2 separate regions of the Homo sapiens genome follow, and region 2 is linked to region 1. The links come from fine-mapping of genetic effects on plasma protein levels. Region 1 holds a variant in brackets. A gene starts in the other region. All regions are shown on their reverse strands.

Region 1 (5,386 bases):
TGGAAAGGAGTTTTGCCCACCCTTGAGTAGATATGTTTGATTATTTTATACATCAGTGTAAAATCAGTATCAATATCAGCCAAATAACTTATCTTACTTGTCCTCTTGATAATTCTCTTCACTCTTAACATTATAGTTCAGAGCATGTACACATGTATGCATGCAAATGCACACACACACACACACACACACACACAAACACAGTGCCTTTCCTGATAAACCAGTGGACTGAAATAATACTCTTTTCCTCTGGAATAACGTGAAAAGACATTGAGGTATTTTTTAGTTTGTTGGTTTTGTTTTTCCCAAGAGTTTTCAGTATATGGGAAAGGAAAAAATGTTACATAAAATAGTATAAGACGGTAGGAAACTCAGTTTCTTTCAATGTCCTTGACCACCAGGCCTAGGCAGCGAGGTTCTATACTTTCACATTACGACAAAGTAGCTGTCTCAGAGACATCATACCCAATGTCCTACCACCCCTCATATCCACTCTGTGTAGTCTTTAAACAACCATCGAAATTTCAAATTCCTTTAATAAATAACAACTTAAATCTTCAAAAGTATCAGGGTCATATTATTTTTAGAAAAAGAGAGTTTAGAACAATATTAGATCAGTAATGTAAAGTATATTCACATTATTGTGCTATAGATATTCAGAACTTTTCATCTTGCAAAATGGAAACTCTATACCTGTTTAACAATTTCATTTCCTCATCCCCCCAGCCCCTTGCAATTACCTGGGCCCACCTGGAAAATCCAGGATAATCTCCCTATTTTAAGATTAAGGTATTAGCAAGCTTAATTCCATCTGTTACCTTATTTCCCCTTTGCCACATTGAACAATATATTAATGGGCTCCAGGAGTTAGAACAGAGGCATGTTTGGCAGGCAAACCATACATAGCCATCTCTTACGGGAAGGAGAGTGAAGTACTATGTTTGGCCAGGTCTGAGTCTGGTGTCTATACTAGACTAGAAGATAATGGAAGGATTAGAGAAATTAGGAAGCAATGATAGGGAAATGGCAACCACCATTTTACTTTATATTTCTATGAGTTTGACTATGTTAGATACTTCTGTTGTGGTTTGAATGTGTCTCCTAAAGTTCCAGTGCAACAGTGATGGGAACTGGGGCCAAATAAGAGGTGATTAGGTCGTCAGGGCTCTGCCTTCATGAATGGATTAATGTCATTATGTTGGGAATGGTTTAGTATCATGACAGTGAGTTTTCTATAAAAGTGAGTTTGGCCCCGTCTTGCCCTTGCTTGAGCTCTCTTGCCCTTCCGCCTTCCACCATGAGATGATGCAACATCTTGCCACATATAGATTCCTCAATCTTGTAATTCCCAGTCTTCAGAACTATAAAAAATAAATATCTTTTATTTATAAATTACTTAGTCTCAGGTATTGTTATAGCAACACAAAACAGACTAAGATGATCATATATTATCATATATATTATATATATAATAAATATATACATATTTAAAAACCAGCAATGTTTGAAAGAGTAAGAGAATCCCTCTACTCCTTGTAAAATCAGATAGTAGCAGTAGCACTACCATCACTGTAAAGTATGGGACGCAGGGAGTATCTATGGGTGGCTGGCAGACATCAAGGGATAGTATGTACCTAACCTACTGGTGAAGGAACAGCTGGAGAGGTACTTGGTTCAATGGGATTTTAAACTCTTCCTCTCTATATCCATAAAGAATATTTGTAGATAAGTCTTAGCAAAGGAAAGAGAATAGTCCTAGCACCCAGAGATATTGGTTTACATCTCTAACTCTCCTAAAGACTACAGGCTCCTTGAGAAAAGAAAAACAAAAAACAAAAAAACTGAGTTTATTTACCTTAGAGATGGAACCAGTTGGTAGAGAACCTTAGATTAAGTGTTACACACACACAGGGAGAGAGAGAGAGAGAGAGACCAAACAGGTTTAGAAAATAACGTTCAATTCCTCAAATTAGTAACAAGCATAGCCAGAACTAAAACTCTCATTTTCAAGTTCCTTGTCATAGTCTGTCATTGTTTACTGTCTCTTTCCAAATTATCACTTGGTGAGTAACAGAAGATATTTTCAAGTCTCTCATAAGATTTGTACTGAGACTTAAGGTTAAGAATATTCTTATTTCTTTTCACTTCCTTGGCAAGTTTATATTTAACGGATATAAGAAGCTTTATTCATAAAAGTAGACTACATTTCATGTGTTCTTCCTGTAAAATATGCATGTAACCTGTTCCATTCTTGCAGTTTCTACTGTATATTCTGTAAAATTAATAAAATTACTGAATCTATATTTTACAAATATCATTGCCA[C/A]ACTTATTGTCTAATAGTATTTAATATTATATTGCTTGTTAATCAGTATTAAAAATGATTAAAATAAATTTATTCTTGTTTTAACAGTATTAGTTTACATTTTGCCTGGCATACCCCAAAGCTCCTATTGTACTTTTCTAGGAAGATATTACCTTCAGTATGGAAGGGGGTAGTGAATGTATTACTAAATAATGCCAAAACATTTGTGGATAGAAAATTCCCATTGATAGAACAAAACCTTGATATTATCTCTAAAAGTAAGTACTGAAAATAAAGTTAAAAAAACAAATACAAATAGTATTCAAATAAAAATTGGCAGGGTTTAATAAGAAAAGTAGTGAGGTAGTTTCTATAAATAAAGAGCTCATTATGGAACAAACATAAATTAACAATAAGTACAAAATATTAAATAAATATTCTGAGAACAGAAGATTAGGATGCAAAGATTTTCCAAAATAATAGATTGACTCAAGATGACAAAGTGTACAAATGCTGCAAAATGCCTATGCATCCAAGATTACATGAAAGAAGAAAAAAGATTTCATATATTTTATAAAATATATAAATAAGAGAGGATATATATATATATTTCATATATATTCATGCATGTATTTTCTATACCAAACATATACACACACAATGGAGAATAAATCCATAATAGACAAGAAAAAAATTTAAAGTGCCATTATAGCCCAAATGTTATGAGCAATACCTGAAAGATATAAAGTAAGTAGGATCAGATCCAAAGAAAAGCAAGAGAAAAAAAAGCATTGCAAAACAGATTCTGAAGCAGACTGTTGCAAAGGTAAAGGCATTTTAGGTTCTGAAGAATGAAGCAAAGTTAATGAAGCAAGCAGAAGAGTTTAGATAAAGCATTACTGATACATTCAGAAACAGCTAAGGGGATATTGCAGCTATGAAAAATTTATTAGAAGTCTTGGCATTTAAAAGTTGATCACCTATGCTGGAAACAATAGTCTAAATAGCCTAATGGGCATGGTTGAAGTGTAAATTACTGGGCTAGAAATCTACCAAGGGATTATCTCAGACTACAGAGATAAATGCAAATGAGAGGGAAAGTATAAGTGATGAGAAATGAAGTACAGATCCATAGGTTCCAATATCTCTCTAAAATGAGTTCCAGAAGGAGAAGAGGAATACATGGAATAGAGTAAAAAATAATAATAATATAGTAAAAAATAACACTTCCATTAACAAAATGGAATGAGTTTATAGTTTAGAAAACATGTGAAGCAATGGTGAAATCTCAGAACATCAAATGTTAATGTTAATTGTGTTTTCCCAAAAATTCATGTGTTGAAGTCCTAATGCCCAGTACTCTAGAATGTGACTGTATTTGAAAATGTGGTTTTGAATAAGTTATTAAATTAAAATGAAGCCATAACAGTAGACCCTAATTGAATCCGACTGGTGTTCTTCTAAAAACAGAAGATTAGGATGCAAAAAAAGACGTCAGGGATGGTCCCTCACAAAATAAAGGCAATGTGAGGACACAGTGAGAAGGCAGCCATCTGTGAGACAAGGAGAGAGGGTTCAGAAAAATCAAACCCGCCCACAACTGGATCTTGGACTTCTGGCCTCTAGAACTGTGAGAAAATAAATTTCTGTTATTTTAGCCACCAACTCTGTGGTATTTTATTATGGTAGCCCTGGCAAACGAATACACCAACAACTAAAATATTATTCTAAAAACATCTTGTAAGAAAACACAAGCAATCTAACAAAAAAATCAGCTTAATATTATATTTCATTTAAACATGACTTCTACCTTTATTGTTATCAATTAAGGATTTTTTTTTTCCTAATAGCATCCATATGTGTTTACTGGTGTCTATTCTCCTCATCCACCTGTAGTCAATTCCTTACTATGCAGGCAAAATTATCTTGTGCAAATAAGATCACATAATGCCTTCTGCTCAAAACCCCTGATGGCTTTACATCCAAAATAAAATCCCAAGGAATCAAAGAACTTATTTTGACCTATAATATCTCTTTTATTGGTCCTTCTTTCCCTTTCACTCTTTATCCACATTGAACATCTTTTAATTTCTGGAACAAACCAAGTAATTAATATCTAACACAGCCAAGGTGATTCTCAACCTTGGCTGAGTATTGGAAACACCTGCAGAGACATTAAAATATTGATGCTTGATTTCTACTCCCTAGAGTTTTAGATGCATTTGGTCGGGCATTCAACCGTGGTATCAGAATTTTTTTAAGCTCCCAGGGGATTGTTAGGGTCAGAGAAGTTTGGAAACCACTTGTCTAAGGAAGTCCCTGTTGCTTGAGTTTAGAATCCATTTGTCCACACCTTCACCTGGCTCCCTTCTTTATTTCTTTCAAAAGAAGGCCAAATGTCTGATCAAATGCTCTCTGATCTAAGAAAGTGGAACTTCAGAGTTCTAGGACAAAACTACTTTGAGTGTAAAATCCTAACCCAGCAAGTTAATATTAACCTAGGAGGGAGATAGTTATACAGAGACACCCAAAAGTACAAAACAAGATAGGTAAATTATGAGGAGACATTTATATAGGACAGAAAGAGGATGAGAAAGCCACATGTCTACAGTAATAAAAGACCTTGAGATTGCTACATAAGACCTGGGTTCGTATAAATTCTCTGAGTCTTGGTTTTCACAATGTTGAACTGCAGATATTATCTTCTGTAAGTTTTTTCAGGCGCCTTCTCCCAGGACCAAAGTAGACTAATGTAGTAAAACGTTTTGGCACTTCAAGAACCGCGTAAATGGATTTTTCAAGTAAATTTAAAATAAAAGCCTTATATTAGTCTCCTCAGGCTGCCATTACAGAATACCACAGACTAGGTGGTAAACAACAGAAATTTATTTTCTCAAGGTTCTGGAGGCCAGAAGTCCCAAGTCACGGGTTCAGCAGGGTTGGTTTATGAGAGGCTTCTCCTCCTGGCTTGCAGATGGCTGCCTTCTCGCAGCTGCCTTTCATGGCTTTTCCTCCCTGCATAGACACTGCTGGTGTCCCTTCCTCTTCTTAAAAGGACACCAGTCCTATTGAATTAGTGCCCCA
Region 2 (5,386 bases), not on the chromosome of region 1:
TTGGTGATATAACTACGTCTAATCGTATAATTCACGAGGTGACTTTGGTTTAGACATTTCTGTCTCTGGGCCTCAGTTTTCTCAGCTGTGAAATTAGAGTGTGAGTCCTTTCTGCATCTTTGAAAGTTACCTAAGCCCTTGACAAGGTTTGAAAGGCAGCCATTTGCAGAAGTTACCTCCTCCTACAAAAACTGTTTTTGATGTGCTGCTAATGTTTCCATAAAACAAAAAGAAAGCCAAGTTATTTTAATAGGTTAGCATAAAAAGGAGGTATAAATAAATATAAAGGTAGGTAGCTTTACAGATACCAAGGCTAGGTAGGGATAATTTCCTTAATTTTCACTGAATTAACACAAGTCCATAAAAGAATATTAAACAACCCAAAAGAAAAATATGCTAAGAATATAGACAAAATCCTCAAGTTAAAATATGTAAGTACATAGTAAATATATGAAAAAAGAAGAGGGCTCCTTCATAATTAGAGGAATGCAAAGTGAAATAAGTTATAGCTTTTCATCTGTGAGACAGGCAGAATATTTAAAGTTGTCCATACCCAGTGCTGGAAAAGGAGTGGGAAAAAAGGCACTTTCGTAGACTGTTGGAGAAAGTGTTAACATAGGAGATTATTTGTCAACAGCATAGTTTTTGAACTTTTGAAATCCCACTTGTAGGAATTTATCTTATGCACGTTTATCAGGATATAATATGTAAAAGGCTATTCATTGTGGCATTGCTTGTTTCTAGAAAGATAAACGAATGAGTCAGGAATTGAATAGCCACTTTTCTCAGTAAACCGCCCATAAAGAGTAGCCCCTGGTGGCAGCCTCTGGTAATGCAGGCATAGTGTTTAGGAGGCTAATTTAGGTGACACTGTTCATCACCCTTGTTGATTTACCTTTAAGAGTATTGTCAACTGTCTCAAGTCCCTCGTGAAGAACAGGTTCCAGCTTATCCACGACATTGCTTAGGTCATTGCCAAGATTGTCAAGAAGAGACTCTGAGGTCCCAGTGAGCACGCCGCACAGGAGAACAAGTTTCCAAAGCTGAAGCATCTTTTGTCTTGACACCTGGACAGTCATGGGAAGAACAGGAGTGAGAATTGCCCAGAGGGAAATGGACTCTTCAGTGAGTTCCCATCACTCTTAACATTTAGCATTCCATTAAGATAGATGTGGTTATTTCCTATTTTACAAATGGGCAGCCAAGGTCAGAAAGCTACAGCAACTTGCCCGGAGACACACAGTCAGTGAGCAGAGGAGCTGGGATTTGAAAAGTCAGACTTGACTCCAAGCCCATACTCTTGACACAAAGTTCCTTTTCATACGCTGTCTTCTCTGCCTAAAATATTTTTCTTCTTCTTTACTTTTCCACTTAGGTCAATTCCTACATCATGCCCTCTGTGAAGCCTACTGTAGGCCCCTTCCCAGATTCTAGGTTGGAGGAGTCCCACCTTGCTGCCTTCATTATCCTGATCAAGGTCTTGGATAACACTTCCCTGATGATTTGACCACCTTTCCTACCAGGCTGTGAACTCCTTAGAGGAAGGACTGTGACTTATTTCACTGTCGAATCCTCAGGCGCCAGTAAAAAGCCTGCACCTAGTACAGTACAGTAAACGAATAAATCTTTGTTGAATATAAGTATGAACAAATCAATGGAGACCACCTCATGACCCTGCATTGTTCATTAGTTTGACACTTATTTTAATATAATCTATAGATCTCTAAATTTACTCTGATTTGCCATTTGTCTTGACACCTGGACAGTCATGGGAAGAACAGGAGTAAGAATTGCCCAGAGGGAAATGGAATCTTTAGTGAGTACTCATCACGAACTTGCCATTTAGAGCACATTTAGAGATATATTGATTATCTCTGCTGTATTCAAAATATTAGCTAACCCAAGCAATCCCACCCCTCTGCCTCTTGCCCCCAAAGCCTTCCAAAGACCACCACGTGTGGTGCCACTGGGGGGAGCACGCCACTCACGCGTTTAGAGGAGGATGCTCATGAAATCCTTGCCCCACTGCACAGTCTGCTGGGATTCTGCTGAATGGTGGCGGCTATTATATGGTGGAGATGGGATGGAAGGCTGCCCACAGAAGCAAGCCTTGGTTCTGGGATCATCCAAGGACACTCCAAGGAAAATAACCCCTCTCCAGGATGAGCAGAGAGAGAGATTTCCAACTCAAAGGTCACCCAGGATGCTTGAATTGAAACGGATGGCTATGGAGAGGGCTTTCCGCCAAGACTAAGACCAGGTCCTCATGGAGCCTGCAGCTACCGAGGGGGTGGTCCTTGGTCCTTGTGGGTGAGGACTGGGAGAAGACTGAGAATGAATGAATTGGAGAATGTCCTGGCAGGAGGACCCATAATGACCATCCGGTCTAACTCCGTCATCATTTGGAAACTGAGGCTCAGAGAGGGGAAGCCACCAGCCTGGGGTCATTCAGCAAGACAGGGACCGAGATGGGTCTAGAATTGTGGCCCACAAGGAGTCAGACAGCCTCCCAGGGGTCCTGCCCCCAGGGGTCTGCACCCGGCAGGTGCAGCAGATGCCTGGCAGCTGCTTGTGCTGACACTGGGCTTGGTGTCCCTAAAGGGCACTTTAGATGCACTTTTCTGTTAGTCTTTATGAAAACTCTGTAAGGCAGGTTTTCAGAGCTCCATTTTCCAGTTGAGAAAGCTGAAGTTCAGAGAGGGAGGTGGCTTGTCCATACTTGCAAGGACAGGAACCAGGCATTTGGGCCACCAGGGAAGACCCTTCCACCCATATCAGGCTGAGGTCAGTTAGCAGAGAGGGAGAGTCCCTGGGCCTGAGTATCCTGTTTTTGCTTCGGCCACTGATGTTTGGGTTGGTTGTAACGCCTGCTGCATTGGGCCTGTGTCAACCCGGAACAGCACAGGAAACTCGGGTGGGTGCCCACTTGGCCTCAGGCTGGGAAGGACTGGCACAGAGCTCAGGGTCACCATAGGTCTCTGCCCTTCTGCTCACCCACCTGCAATTCAGCAAGGACCTGGGGGGCCTGTCCTCAAAATGATGCAACCAAGCAAACGGTGGGACAAGACCAGTGGCTCCAGGAGCTGGCTGTTCCTACACTGACCATGGCTCCACTGTTACAGCACAGAGCTGGGCGGCTGCAGGAAGGTGATGGCCAGGCCCCAAGAGCCCAGACCATTAGACCCCTGCTGCAGTCTTGCCTGTGGTCTTGAATGGTTGTCACACCTCCTTCCCTGGCTGCCTGACACCGGGTTCTCCAAACGTCTGAGCCCCGCTCTTCCCCCAGTTGTGAAGCACAGAGCCAAGGGCTGTGCTGAAATCTTGTGAAGGCAGTTTGTCCCAGCCCAGGAACATAGCCCAGGGTGCTGAGCATGATGCAGTGACCTCGAGACCTGGTGTTGGCCCAGGCCTCAGTTGCCTCATCTGTAAAATGGGTAAACACGCTGTTCCTGGATCTCAGAGGCATGGTGGACAGGCAAGGACCTAGGAAATCAAAACGATGGTGAGGGGCTTTGAGGGCAGTGCTCAGAGCCTGGCACTGGGCTTGGGCTGTCCTGGGCATGAATACTCTCTCTCTGCTGGTTGCTGGCCATGTGACCTGGGCCAGAGACCGCACCTTGCTGAGCCTCAGGCTCTTTATCTGTGAAATGGGACTAAGAACAGTGCTCACCTCAAGGGCATGCTGTGAGGTCAAATTAGTGTAATACCCATGAAGGCTTAGCATAGGGTAGGCCCATGATGCACGGCAACAGCAAAGATGGCGAAGAAGATGCTGATGAATATGTGCGCATATGGTCCCGGCTTACGATGGTTTGACTTCAATATTTCAACTTTACTATGGGTTTACTGGGACACAACCCATTATAAAATGAGGACCATCTGGCCAGGCATGGTGGTTCACACCTGTAATCCCAGCACTTTGGGAGGCCGAGGCGGGCAGATCACCTGAGGTCAGGAGTTCGAGACCAGCCTGGCCAACATGGTGAAACCCTGTCTCTACTAAAAATACAAAATCTAGCCGGGTGTGGGGGCAGGCATCTGTAATCCCAGCTACTCTGGAGGCTGAAGCAGAAGAATTACTTGAACCCAGGGGGTGGATGTTGCAGTGAGCCAAGATTGTGCCACTTCACTATAGCCTGGGCAAAAGAGCGAAACTCCGTCTCAAACAAACAAACAAAAATAAAATAAAATGAGGAGCATCTGTCATAAGATTAATATTATATAATATATAATATAGGGTCCTTGGTGGGTGGGGAGGTTGGGATCCTCAGAGGTCACCCGAGGTTCAGGCTGGCTGGTCTGAGTCATTCCGGAAAAAGAAACAGTGACAACTCCTCCTGTGTGCTCCTCCTCCTCCTCTTCTTCCCTCTCCAGGTTACACAAAGTCTTCTCACATAGAAGATGTTTGCCTCTTAGGGACAAAGGCCCCAGCCATGAGGGTCGCGAGATGAATTTCTTATTGAAAATTCCCAGTGAGGCATTAAAGATTAGCTGTGCCAAGACTAGGACATCCTACCTGCTGCGTGACTGCTAATCCCCAGCTGGGGCAGCTTCCTGATCCCACTGGCCCAGCCTTAACCTCCAAGCTGGTATCTTTTTCCATACCTGGCTCAGTGCCCTGGCTAGAAACAGCCTAAGAGGTCATGCAGCCTACTGAGACCAGAGAAAGCGAGTGACAGGGCTGGGGTTGCATGAGGGGCCAGCCAGGCTGGGGGGTGCTCAGCTGACCAGACTGCCCACTGACCTTCCTTCTCCTGTGGACAGAAGCAGCCCCCACCCCTTCTCCAGATAACAAACACACAGGTGTGCACTCCCATTGCACCCATCAAAGATAATTGCCTTATTTTGCTAGTAAAATTGCTGAAAGGCTTGTCACCATTTTGCCTGTGAAATCAGTCAAGTACGAATCATCCATCCAATTTCTAGTAGGTCCTGGTTTCTCACACTTGAACTGCCTACTCAGGAATTCTGGGCAAATAAGAAAGATCAAAGCAACAAAACCTGTTCACACGTTACTGTCCTTCCTGTGACTGCTAAATAGAGCAATTAATAAAGTTGTCACAATGTTACAGTCTGAAGACCTTTAATTCAACTTTTGGTAATTTTGACTTTGCCGGGTTTTCTTCTGGTGACACAGTTTATTCTTTCAGCGCTCAAGTATTTCCCTAAGTCCCGGATTCCACATCTGGACACTAATAGACCCCTCTCAAGTCCTGCCTTTAGAATATGGAGAGCCACTTCCTATGGACTGACAGATGGAGGGGGCCTTGCCCCACTGCAGGCTGGAGTCTTCTTCCTCCTGTCCCATGGAATGTTCCCTGAATGCTTCATCCAACACTCCCAGAGAAAATTTAAAGGAGTTTTCACCGGGTCAGGGTCCTCCCCT

Which allele goes with the higher level. Positions count from the first base shown, and alleles are read on the strand shown. Strength reflects both the effect of a copy and how common the allele is.
As copies of A replace C in region 1, the plasma level of the protein whose gene starts at base 2,039 in region 2 goes up (moderate association).

What was found. PIP is the chance, under the fine-mapping model, that this variant and not a neighbour inherited with it causes the effect. Protein levels are from antibody-based Olink assays in UK Biobank. Linkage for the fine-mapping came from a reference panel and not from the study's own genotypes, which makes the PIPs less certain.
Region 2: it holds the start of BPIFA2, and the variant in region 1 is fine-mapped to the plasma level of the BPIFA2 protein (UK Biobank, PIP above 0.99).

Annotation. Positions count from the first base shown.
Region 1 is chr1:103,908,235-103,913,620 of GRCh38, reverse strand. No RefSeq gene overlaps it. Among named protein-coding and RNA genes, the nearest start is that of AMY1C, 160 kb to the right of the region's middle. The variant C/A (reference allele first, on the strand shown) is at 2,324.
Region 2 is chr20:33,164,812-33,170,197 of GRCh38, reverse strand. It overlaps BPIFA2 (BPI fold containing family A member 2), which reads right to left and starts at 2,039. Exons shown (of 9, transcript NM_080574.4): 1 at 1,989-2,039; 2 at 896-1,067. The coding sequence starts at 1,052. RefSeq lists enhancers at 2,900-3,399, 3,400-3,901.